2 separate regions of the Homo sapiens genome follow, and region 2 is linked to region 1. The links come from fine-mapping of genetic effects on gene expression. A gene starts in region 1. The other region holds a variant in brackets. All regions are shown on one strand. Distances are from middle to middle.

Region 1 (5,382 bases):
GGAGGCTGAGGCAACAGAATCGCTTGAACCCGAGAGGCGGAGTCTGCAGTGAGCCAAGATTGTGCCACTGCACTCCAGCCTGGGCAACAGAGTGAGACTCCGTCTCAAAAAAAAAAAAAAAATGAAAAAAAGAAAGAAAGAAAACAAAACAACAACAATAACCAATCAGCCCTATCAGGCAGGTATTATTCCTGTGATTATGTTACAGATGAGCAAAATGACTTCAGAGAGGTTGAGTAACTTGCTCAACTTTACCCAGCAATAAATTGTGGAGGCAAGCCTGTGATTATGTTACAGATGAGCAAAATGAGTTCAGAGAGGTTGAGTAACTTGCTCAACTTTACCCAGCAATAAATTGTGGGGGCAAGCCCAAGCATAGGACTTGCTCAACTTTATAGGTCATGTTCTTAATAGATGTTTTTCTGATTTGATTGTTTAAAGAGGTGACTGAATTTCATGATTCAAGATTTAGGAAAATTATTACACAATGCTTAGTGAAAATTTCTTCTCCTATCACTGCCCCCAGGCCCCCAGCTTCCCTCCTCATAGGCAACCAGCGTCATTAGATGAGGTGTAATATTCTAGAGATATTTTCTGAGTTTCATTTTGCTACACCATTCTGAAGCTCACATTTTTCACCTAGGAAAATATCTTGCAGATCACTCCTTATCAGTACACAAAGAGCTTCCTTGTTCTGTTTTCCAGCTGCAGGATTTCATCGTGTGCGGAGGTGCCATGATCTTGCTCACCAGTCCCCAGTCAATAGACATTAGCCCCATTTCCATTCTTCACTGTAGCTGATGCTCTTTATTCTGAGAAAACTCCACTCCCTCCTGAGAGATCGTGAGAGTCTCCCGTGACAATTAGCCTCCTCTAAGCCACAAGACATGGCCACGTTCTCAAGTTACTTTAACAAATGGAGTGCATTGTGAGACACACAAGAACACAGACCAAAAAAAAGAAACTGGGAAGCAGCCTGACAAAGGCAGGTGGAGAGTAGCCCCACCCTGGGCACCAGGCACCTCTGCCCATTTCCTGCCACCACCCATGGCTGTGAGGGGCTCCATGAGCCACCCAGACACTGTCACCATGTCTCCCATCCTGCCAGTTGCTGGGCTTTGGCAACTAATCAGCCTGCATCTAAAAGCAAGGTCATTTTAAGAGGGTCTCTGTGACTCTGGCCTCGCTTGCTGAGTCCAAATGTCCATACAGGAGAGGGGCAGGATCTCTATCACATGGCCCCCTTGCTACCAGTGGAGGGTGTCCAGGTTCTTGGGGTCTTGAACAAAGAACTGGACAAAGTTACAAACAAAGGAAGGAAAGAATGAAGCAACAAAAGCAGAGATTTATTGAAAATGAGGTGGGAGTGGCCCCGAGCATAGGGGCTCAAGAGCCCTGTTACAGAATTTTCTGGGGTTTAAATACCCTCTAGAGGTTTCCATTGGTTACTTGGTGTACGCCCTGTGTAAATGAAGAGGATCAAGTAAAGTTACAAAGACATTTACTGGGTTTACGCCTTGTGTCAATGGTGAGGATATTTCCTGTAATAGCTGAAGTATTTCCATTTGATTTAGTTCTAGGAAGTCAGCATGAATCAGTCTTATGTTCCCTGCCTCCAGACCGTATTCTCCTGTCTCACCCCGGGCAGACGTGGGGAGCTGCTGGCTGGTCGGCTGGTCAGCTGGTCAGCTCCCCTGGGAACAGGGCCCATCCCAATTCCCACCAGGTGTAGCCAGGGTGGTGAAGTCAAGTGGGACAACGTGAGGGCCTGTGCTTAAGGCCCCGTTTCCTCGGAAGGGGTTTGGGGCACTCAGGCATCAGGTACTGTACCTCCTGCCCAGGGATCCCAGAGCTGCCTAGAGGAATTTGAGCAGGCTGGAATTCCTGCTGAGCAAGCAAGGCCAGAGTCACAGAGACCCTCTTAAAGTGACCTTGCTTTTAGATGTAAGCCGATTCAGTCTAGGGGGAAAAAATGACCACATGGAACCACTTATAAGGCTCTCTAGCTTAAAAAAAAAAATTATACACCTTAGCTCACCAAAGTCTCCAGGAAGTAGACATTATCAGCAGCATTCCCATTTGACGAATGAGAAGACAAGCTTACAGAGGTTACCTGAATTGCGAGGATCACACAGCTAGTCAGCAAGGGAGCTGAGACTCAAACCTGCGTCTTCAGATTCTGGTTTGCGCCTCCTTCTGACTGCACAGCCCTGCAGGCTCCAGAACATCTCCCTTGCCGGCTCTGCTTCCTTTCCTCAGCTGTTGAATGGTGATGCTCCCAAGGCCGTCCGTTAGGGCCTGCATTTCTCTCCCTCTCCACACTCTCTCTGGTTGTTCTCATTTACCTCCTTGCCTTGGCCTAATATCAAAAAGTCAGTGGCCCCTAGAACTCTCTCCAGCCCAGATCTTTCTCCTGAGTTCCATACCTATATATCTAATGCCTTACTGGACACCTCCACATGGCTGTCCAAGCCACCTCAAGTGCAGTGTTTCTGAAATGAAACTCATCTTTCTCTGTAAACTGCTTCTCCTTCTGTGTTCTCTGAGTAGCAGTGACTTCACTTCTGAAGCACAGACTATGTGTTAGTTATTTCACACATGCAAGAGCGGGGTATCATCGTCCCATTTTACAAAAGATAAAAGTAAGGCTTGGAGACGTTAACTTGCTTGCACAAGGCCATAGTACCAAGTCGTTGACAGAGCCAGAGTTCAAATCAAACTCTATTCTGCATTTCTCTCACTGGCACAGGCTGCCTGGAAACCATGGGGCCTCAGCTCTTCACTCTGTTGCACGAACCAGAAGTCATGGTTCATTCTTGACTCCTCCAACCCTCCCCACCCTCTTCCCACCCTCACCCACCCCAGCTTCTCACCCCCACAGCTGCCTCAGAGCTGAGTCAATCAGTTCTACCACCTAAATGCTTCGCAAGCTGTGCCTTCTCTCCATTCCTATTGTCACTTCCTTGGTTTAGCCCCTAAATTATGTCTCCCTCATTACCTGAAATAACTTCCTAACTAGTTTCTTTGTCTCTAGTAACAACCCCGCTTCAAGTCCTCTCTCCCTGTGAATGAGCTTTCTAAAATATACCCAATCATTGCATTCACCTGGTTAAGACCTCCAAAAGCTTCCACTACCTCCAGGATAAATCCCAAATTCCTGTTTCTGCTGATGCCTGTATATGCAGGTGATCCCTTGCTGGGTCTCTGAAATGGGTTCATCTCTTCAAGGTTTTTACTGAGACGATATAGTCCTCTTGTTGCACATTGCACTGATCCAGGCCATCTGTACTGTATTCCAATGAGCTACAGAAAAATGCTTGCGTGAGAGCCTTTCATATGCAAAAATAAAGACTGAATTATGCCATAACTATTGATAAGTCTACAGTAATCCATCATGCAATTGTTTACCCAATAGATTGTGTTTATATTGTCTTTGGTACCATGTAATTTGTAAATTTTCATGACAGTGTAACCAGTTAGGCCTAGGGTGGCAGGACTTAAGTGTTGCTGAATCATTTATTACTCCACACCTCATTGAAAAGTGCTTCATAAACTTTCTGAAACTGTTCAACAGACAGAGGGTAATTTGTGCTCTGCCAACAAAGGATTCTGTTGTTGAGTGCCTATCAGCATATTAAAGGTTCAGAGAAAACCAGCAATGCAGAAACTAGAGCAATTTTGTTCTCAGAAGATAGTTTTCTTCTGCACATCCATTCGTTAACATATTCTAAAAGAGTCTGCCCTCAACAGGAGTTTGGGGAAGCACTGGGATAGAGTGCAGAGGCCCTGAGGCTTCTGGAGTTTATCTGACTCTGACATCAGGATGCAAGCACAGACCTGCCACTCTCTCAGGAACATCTTTCGTTAACTCCCGTTTGTCTTTCAAGATTCAGTTCAGATGGCATTTCCTCCTAGTGCTCTTCCTCCCTCTCTGTCTGTCACACACTCACAGGTGCATATGCACCCACACATTTGTGACATGTATAATAATTGCATGGGATTTCCTAACACCCTCTTTCATAATACCTGTCTGTATTTTCTATTGGTTGATAGAAAATTCAGCCCAGACGGATGAGAGCCAACAGGAAATTTATAGGCATTGGAGGCACGCTGCTGCAGCAGCTCCAGCCTCACCCATCCCCACCCTGTCCCAGGTCCAAGTTCAGCAGGAAAGCAGGATTGTCTCATAGGTTTTGTGCCCTGCCTGAGGAAATTCCCCAGATTGTGAATCCCCAAAGGTAGACCAGGGTCTCTTATCCCATATCCAGCCCTTAGCACCTTCCTTGGCATGCCTTGTTTTCAACAAATAACAAATGGGGACACAAAATGTTCAAAGCAAGACTTCTACCTCGAAGGAGTTTATAGTCTAGTTCAAGAGTCACTATGTATAAACAGAATAGAAATACAATAGACCATACAAGGTAACATAAATGCCAAATGAGTGACTTGGGTATTAAGTATCAAAGGAATTCAAAGAAGGGACAGTTTTGGGAGTTGATAAATAAGACATAGATCCTGAACTAGAGAAACTGTTTCTAGTAGGAAAGAAAGGTATGTTACACAGAAAATGCCAATACAGACTGATAAGTATGGGGGCAGAGTGTTCATTACCATGTTCTGTTGGTTCTAGAAAGCTTTTCTTTTTCACTAAATGATTCAAATAATAGCAGCCTTATTTTTCTTGGTCTTATTTACTTTATTTTACTAATAAATTTTTCAAGATGAGAATAGGGGATTTCCTGTTTTGGTGTGTGACTCAGGACACAGGGCCCCACATCGCAGCCTGACACATAGCAGCCTGATTTCATTTCACTGCAGCATCACAGTTTTCCATAACTTCTCTTTTTTTTTTTTTTGACAGAATCCTGCACTGTCACCCGGGCTGGAGTGCAATGGCATGATCTCGGCTCACTACAATCTCCGCCTCCTGGGTTCAAGCGATTCTCCTGCCTCAGCCTCCCGAGTAGCTGGAATTACAGGTGCCCGCCACCATGCCTAGCTAATTTTTTGTATTTTTAGTAAAGATGGGGTTTCACTATGTTGGCCAGGCTGGTCTCGAACTCCTGACCTCATTACCCGCCCACCTCGGCCTCCCAAAGTGCTGGGATTACAGGCGTGAGCCACTGCACCCAGCCCATAACTTCTCTTTTTAGCTGAGCATTTAGCTGCTGTTAAATTCAATTAAGTCCTGCCCCTAGAAGCATGCTGTGGATGACTGCAATAACACTTCTGCCAGAAGACCATGCAGCTGGGCATGTTGACCTCACGGATTAAGGGCTGCAGACATGGTGGGAAATATTTCCTCTCTCTGATAGAACATTTTCCTCTCTGATTTTGCCACTGGAATTTGAACAAATTTCATTTTAAGGGTTGGTCTTCAAT
Region 2 (5,382 bases), 41 kb after region 1:
TACACTTTGGTTTGTCCAAGCACACCTTCCAGTATTCTTTGTTCTGACATCTCCTCTTATAGATGGGTCTGTGTTAATTATAAACTTGAGTTTATTGAAGCATTTGAGGAAGGTAATGGGCGGTCTATGTGTGCTTCACAACCTTATTCAATTAAGCTCTCTATTCTTAATTTACTACTAAATCCTCCTTTGGCCTGTAGTTTCATAAGGCTTATCATGGGTTGGGTGTACTTTAATCAGACAATGTAAGTCATTTCTTTCCATCTCATAAGCTACATGTTGACCTAATGTTTCCATGTAAGTACTTGTGCTTACTTTATGACCTTTTTAGGGCTTGCTGAAGATGGTAGTATACAGGCTGAATTGACAAGAAATAGTGAGGTTTATCATTGCTTATTAATTATGAACCAGGCTCCTCTAGGGGGGATGGAAACACCATACCACCAAGTCCTTTGAGTTTTAAGCTGTTGCTGATAGTACTCTAGTGAATAACTTTAAGTTTATGGCTAAACATAGTGGGGTATTTAATCCCAGTTTAGGTCTTAGCTATTGTGTATTCAGATCATATTAAAGTCATTTTTGTAGTTTATTTGTATTATCCTAAACACAAACGTGCTTTTCAGATTTTATTAATTTGGGTTTATGACTGTGGTGGCTGACACAAAATTTACTGACCCTAAGGAAAATTAGCATAGTTTAGTCAAACTTTTTGTTTATTGCTTTTTATTATTGCTATTTCCTGTAGGAGTGTGGCTGAGCAAGACGTTAGTTGCTACCAATTAGTGTGCTTGACGCCTGCTCCTTTTGCTCTTTTGCTGATTACACATGCAATGCAGATACTTGCACATGTAATCTTACTAAGAATTAATAGAAGGGCCAGAACCAAACCTGTGTGTTTATGCAGTTACATGAACTCATCTAGGCATTTTCAGTGCCTTACTTTAGTGGACTGAGCTACATCGACTTATATCTAGAAAATTCTGTCCTGGGGAAAAAAACTGCTAAATTATGTGCTATGTTAGCATTGGGGGCTCTTTTGGTAATCTTAGTAAGAAAAAAACTTTTAGCCTAGAAAGCCTAATTTTTAATTGATGTTTGGATTTTTGAAAAATGCTTTAATTAGGAGTTGGGTTAATGCTAGATGAACTTATAACTAAATTTAATAGCATGTGAGTATATATAGGAGCCTTAGTTAGCAGTCAATAGATACAAGGTTTCTTATTTGGGCAGGGTTGGCAAGAATAAAAGACTTACTCAGATACTATAAGAGCTTAAGGAGGGTAGAGGGGTTTACAAAGTTAATCATACATGGCAGGAAGAACTGCTTGTATGTGTCTGTGTCTATATCTTGTTTTTATTACGTCCATTGAGATGAATCAATTAGCACCAAATGATTTTATGTGAGTAAAGAATATTCCATTTAAGCGCAGCTACGATCTAGCTGACTGTGTCAAGGCATTGACAGCCATGTTGGATCACAGCACCCTCCAAAATTAAAAAATACCAAATGCATGACCCCACAGTTCCATGTCATCTTGTGCTAGTTAGTCATTAGTCACTGAGATGTCTTATTTAGGGGGAACAAATGAGTGGTTTCAAATCTATGGCCCTGAAGTAAGAACCAGATGCTAGGTATAGTTTCAAGTCTAGAAGCCCCTAGGTTTTATGGGCCCAAAGCAAGAAGGACATTTCCTGAGTAGGTTGCTGGTTTCTCAAAGCTTGGTGGTAAAGAAATCCTATTGGAAGTGATAAGCATGTTGTTAAGGATTGATGTGACTTGATGTGACTTAATGTGCCATGCACAATCAATGATATTATGTCCTATGTAAAAGAAAGGAATTAATGTACTGGACAATATCCAAGTGTTGAATCTATTTTATGTAATCTTGCAATATAACATGCTGTGCACTCTAATTAGTGCAATTTATGTGCGCATATGCATGGGGAATGGACCTTAATGCACAATAAAACATTTATGTAAAATCAAGCATACATAGCACTAGTACATTATTAATGGGGCAAGGCACGTAATGCAGGTGGAGGGCCTCTTTGGAGGTTAAAAAGAATAAAGAATGTGGAGGAAAATGAAAAGATAGATAGTTCCTCAAATGAGAGGGACATAGGGGTCAGAGAAAAGGGCTGTCTTTTTTTTTTTTTTTGAGACAGGGTCTGGTTCTGTCACCCAGGCTGGAGTGCAGTGATGTGATCCTGGCTCACTGCAGCCTCAACCTCCTGGGCTCAAACCATCCTCCTGTCTCAGCCTCTTGAGTAGCTGAGACTACAGGTGTGCACCACTACGCCTGGCTAATTTTTTTTTTTAATAGAGATGGGGTCTCACTATGTTACTCAGACTGGTCTTGAACTCCTGGGCTCAAGCAATCCTCCCACCTCAGCCTCCCAAAGTGCTAAGATTATAGATGTGAGCCACTGTGCCTGTGAGAGGTGTTTTCTTAATGAAAGAAACAGAACTGTTTATATAATGCAAATAAAAAGGAGAGAATTAAACAGAAAATAGCAGAAAATCATAGGAGCAAACAAAGCGCCAAAGGCCTGTGTGCAGAGGGACGGGTGCTGGGCTGAAGATCAGAGCAGAGTGTGGCATGCAGAAGGGGCAGGGCATGCTGGCTGGAAGAGTACACACCCTCCCAGCACGAGGAGGACCCAGCATGGGGAAGTCTGGGGCATTTAGCACGTGGCACAGTGCC[C/T]AGCACCCAGCACCCAGTGGGCTCCCATGACTACCAAGACCAACTGCTTCAAATTAAATCCCAGTCTTACCATACAGTAGCTGTGTGACCTTAGCAAGGTAAACAACCTCTCCTATCTGGGAAGAGGCCAGATCTTAAGCAAAGCACAAAAGAGCTGGAGTTTTGGAAAGGGACCCTGTGAAAAGGGGAGAAGATTTGGAACAATTCTTGTGAAGAATGGGAGACAGATGACCAGAGACCAGTAAAAAGAATGCACACAAAATGTGGTAAACAGGCATCAGAATGGTATAAATGTAAAAATAATGCCATGGTTAGGAATTGAGATTTCAGTCCCTTTTTTTTTAAATTTGGGTTTAATTTCTGTATATATCAAACAACAAATAACCCAAAGGCCAGGATCGGGGCCTGTTGTAACTGAGAAAGCAAGAGCTGCCTGAGATGTTCATTTTATGCATCAAGTTGACAGGGCCTCAAGGTGCCCAGATGGTCAGTCAAACATTATTCTGGGTGTTTTTGTGAGGGTGTGTTAGTCCGTTTTCAGGCTGCTGATAAAGACATACCCAAGACTAAGCAATTTACAAAAGAAAGAGATTTAATGAACTCACAGTTCCATGTGGCTGGAGAGGCCTCACAATCATGGTGGAGGGTGAAAGGTACATCTCATATGGCAGCAGACAAGAAGAATGAGAGCCAAGTGAAAGGGGTTTCCCCTTATAAAGCCATCAGACCTTGTGAGACTTATTCACTACCATGAGAACAGTATGGTGGAAACCACCTCCATGATTCAATTATCTCCCACTGAGTCCCTCCCACAGCACGAAGGAATTATGGAAGCTACAATTCAAGATGAGATTTGGGTGGGGTCACAGCCCAGCCATATCAGTGTTTTACATGAAATTAACATTTAAATTAGTAGTTGTCTTGAGTAAAGCAGACATAATGTGGGTGGGCCTCACCCAATCAGTTGAAGGGCTGAATAGAATAAAAGACTGACCCTGGTAAGACTGAACTCTCCTGCCTGATGCCTTTGCACTGGGACATCAGCTCTTCTGGGTTCTACAGCAGCTTCCAGCTTTCAGACTCAAACCAGGACATCTACTCAGCAGATTTTGGAGTTGCCAGCCTCTGTAATCATGTGAGCCAGTTTCTTATAATAAACCTCTTCATATACTAGTTCTTGTCTTTGGAGAACTCAGAACTCTGAACTCTTGTCTTTAGAGAACTAACACACTGCCTGACTGCGTGATTTTATCATTTATTGCCCTCAACCTCAGAAAGAATTTGAAATAGCTGCTTAGCTACATAAAGTTTCAGGCCAGTGGGCTTTCTTTTAAACTACAATCTTTGCAGGAAAAAATGGCAGGTTCATTGGAAAGGAGTCCTGAAATGAAGCAAGGAAAAGGCAAGAAAGAATAGAAACAGAAGAATTCCCAAGGTTGAAGAGGAAACAAAATGTTAAAAGAAAGATTTTGACCAACCAAAATTAAGAAGCAAAGAACAGGGGGGAAACTAGGCAACAAAAAAGACAAAAGAAAAATAAGTAAATAAAATAAAAAATCAATGGATAAACAATGGCAGCCCGGGCAACATAGTCTCTACAAAAATTTTTTAAAATATCTGAGTGTGCCTGTGGTCCCACCTACTCAGGAGGCTGAGGCAGGAGGACCACTTGGGCCTGGGAGGTTGAGGCTGTAGTGAGCCCTGATGGTACCACTGCACTATAGCCTGGGCAACAGAGCGAGATCCGCTCTCAGAGAAAAAAAAAAAAAATGAGGCACCTAATAAATGTTACTATCTCCTTGCAGCTCTAATGTGGGATTTAATGAGTGTTCAAGGGCTGCTGAGCAGGGACAACATTGTGTACCACCATGTAGCTGAAGAGTTAACTTTCCTAGTTAGGAGGAAATGAAGCTGTGTGCCTGGTTGTAAAGATAAGAGCCATCCAAAACATTTATTTTAGAAAAGAAAGTGACACGAGGGCAAGCAGCCAATTAAAATCTGGAAAGCTGCGACTATGGAAAATTCTACATTTCCTTTCAACGTAAGCACCTAATGACACAGGACTTCATTCCAGAACTAACACTAACACTTCTCAAGCAATCAATTCATATATTCCCATGTTCACGTCTCTCCAAAGTTGCTGTATTTCCCCTGGAAAAACGGAAGAAATCCAATATAGCTACCCAAACAAATACCGTAAATGACTTAAGAGGCAGGGACAGAGAGAAGTTAGAGCGGCAATAATTTATATGATAGACTTAAACCCTTCTTCTACTGAGTGGGGCTCATAGCCTCTTGTCTCTCAGTAAAAGCCTATAATAGTTTGAAGCAAAAAGACAACCCTCCCCTCTAAGAAAAGTGGAAGTGAGAAATATGACATATTGGAAAAATGAAAAGGAAACCAGAATGCTCCCCACCTCGTGCAAAAAATCCCTGTTGTCACATGTTGGCTATTATCAAAAGACTACCGTGTGACTAATTTGGAGCTGTGGAGTCAGCCAGTTATGTGTCAAATATTATTTAAAATGCCCATTTGATAAACAGATGATGACTATGTTTGTGAAGAAATCAAGACAGTTGCAAAAGAATTTAAGAATAAATTTTACAAATTTCTATTACTAAATTCTGCCTGGATCTTCACAGGAAGATCCAGGCAAAGCATTCAGTGTGTTTGCAG

Which allele goes with the higher level. Alleles are on the strand shown, and positions count from the first base shown. SD is a standard deviation of normalised expression in the study named.
For the expression in monocytes after Pam3CSK4 of the gene that starts at base 3,287 in region 1, allele T in region 2 goes with a lower level than allele C (large effect, 1.0 SD a copy in Quach 2016).

Evidence for each region.
Region 2: its variant is fine-mapped to the expression of LINC01181 in monocytes after Pam3CSK4 (Quach 2016, PIP 0.95). The same link has a PIP of 0.9 or more in monocytes and monocytes after LPS.

Annotation. Positions count from the first base shown.
Region 1 is chr8:103,118,937-103,124,318 of GRCh38, reverse strand. LINC01181 (long intergenic non-protein coding RNA 1181) reads right to left here and starts at 3,287. Exons shown (of 6, transcript NR_145429.1): 1 at 3,106-3,287. RefSeq lists an enhancer at 1,749-2,250.
Region 2 is chr8:103,078,265-103,083,646 of GRCh38, reverse strand. No RefSeq gene overlaps it. Among named protein-coding and RNA genes, the nearest start is that of LINC01181, 40 kb to the left of the region's middle. RefSeq lists an enhancer at 4,941-5,110. The variant C/T (reference allele first, on the strand shown) is at 2,706.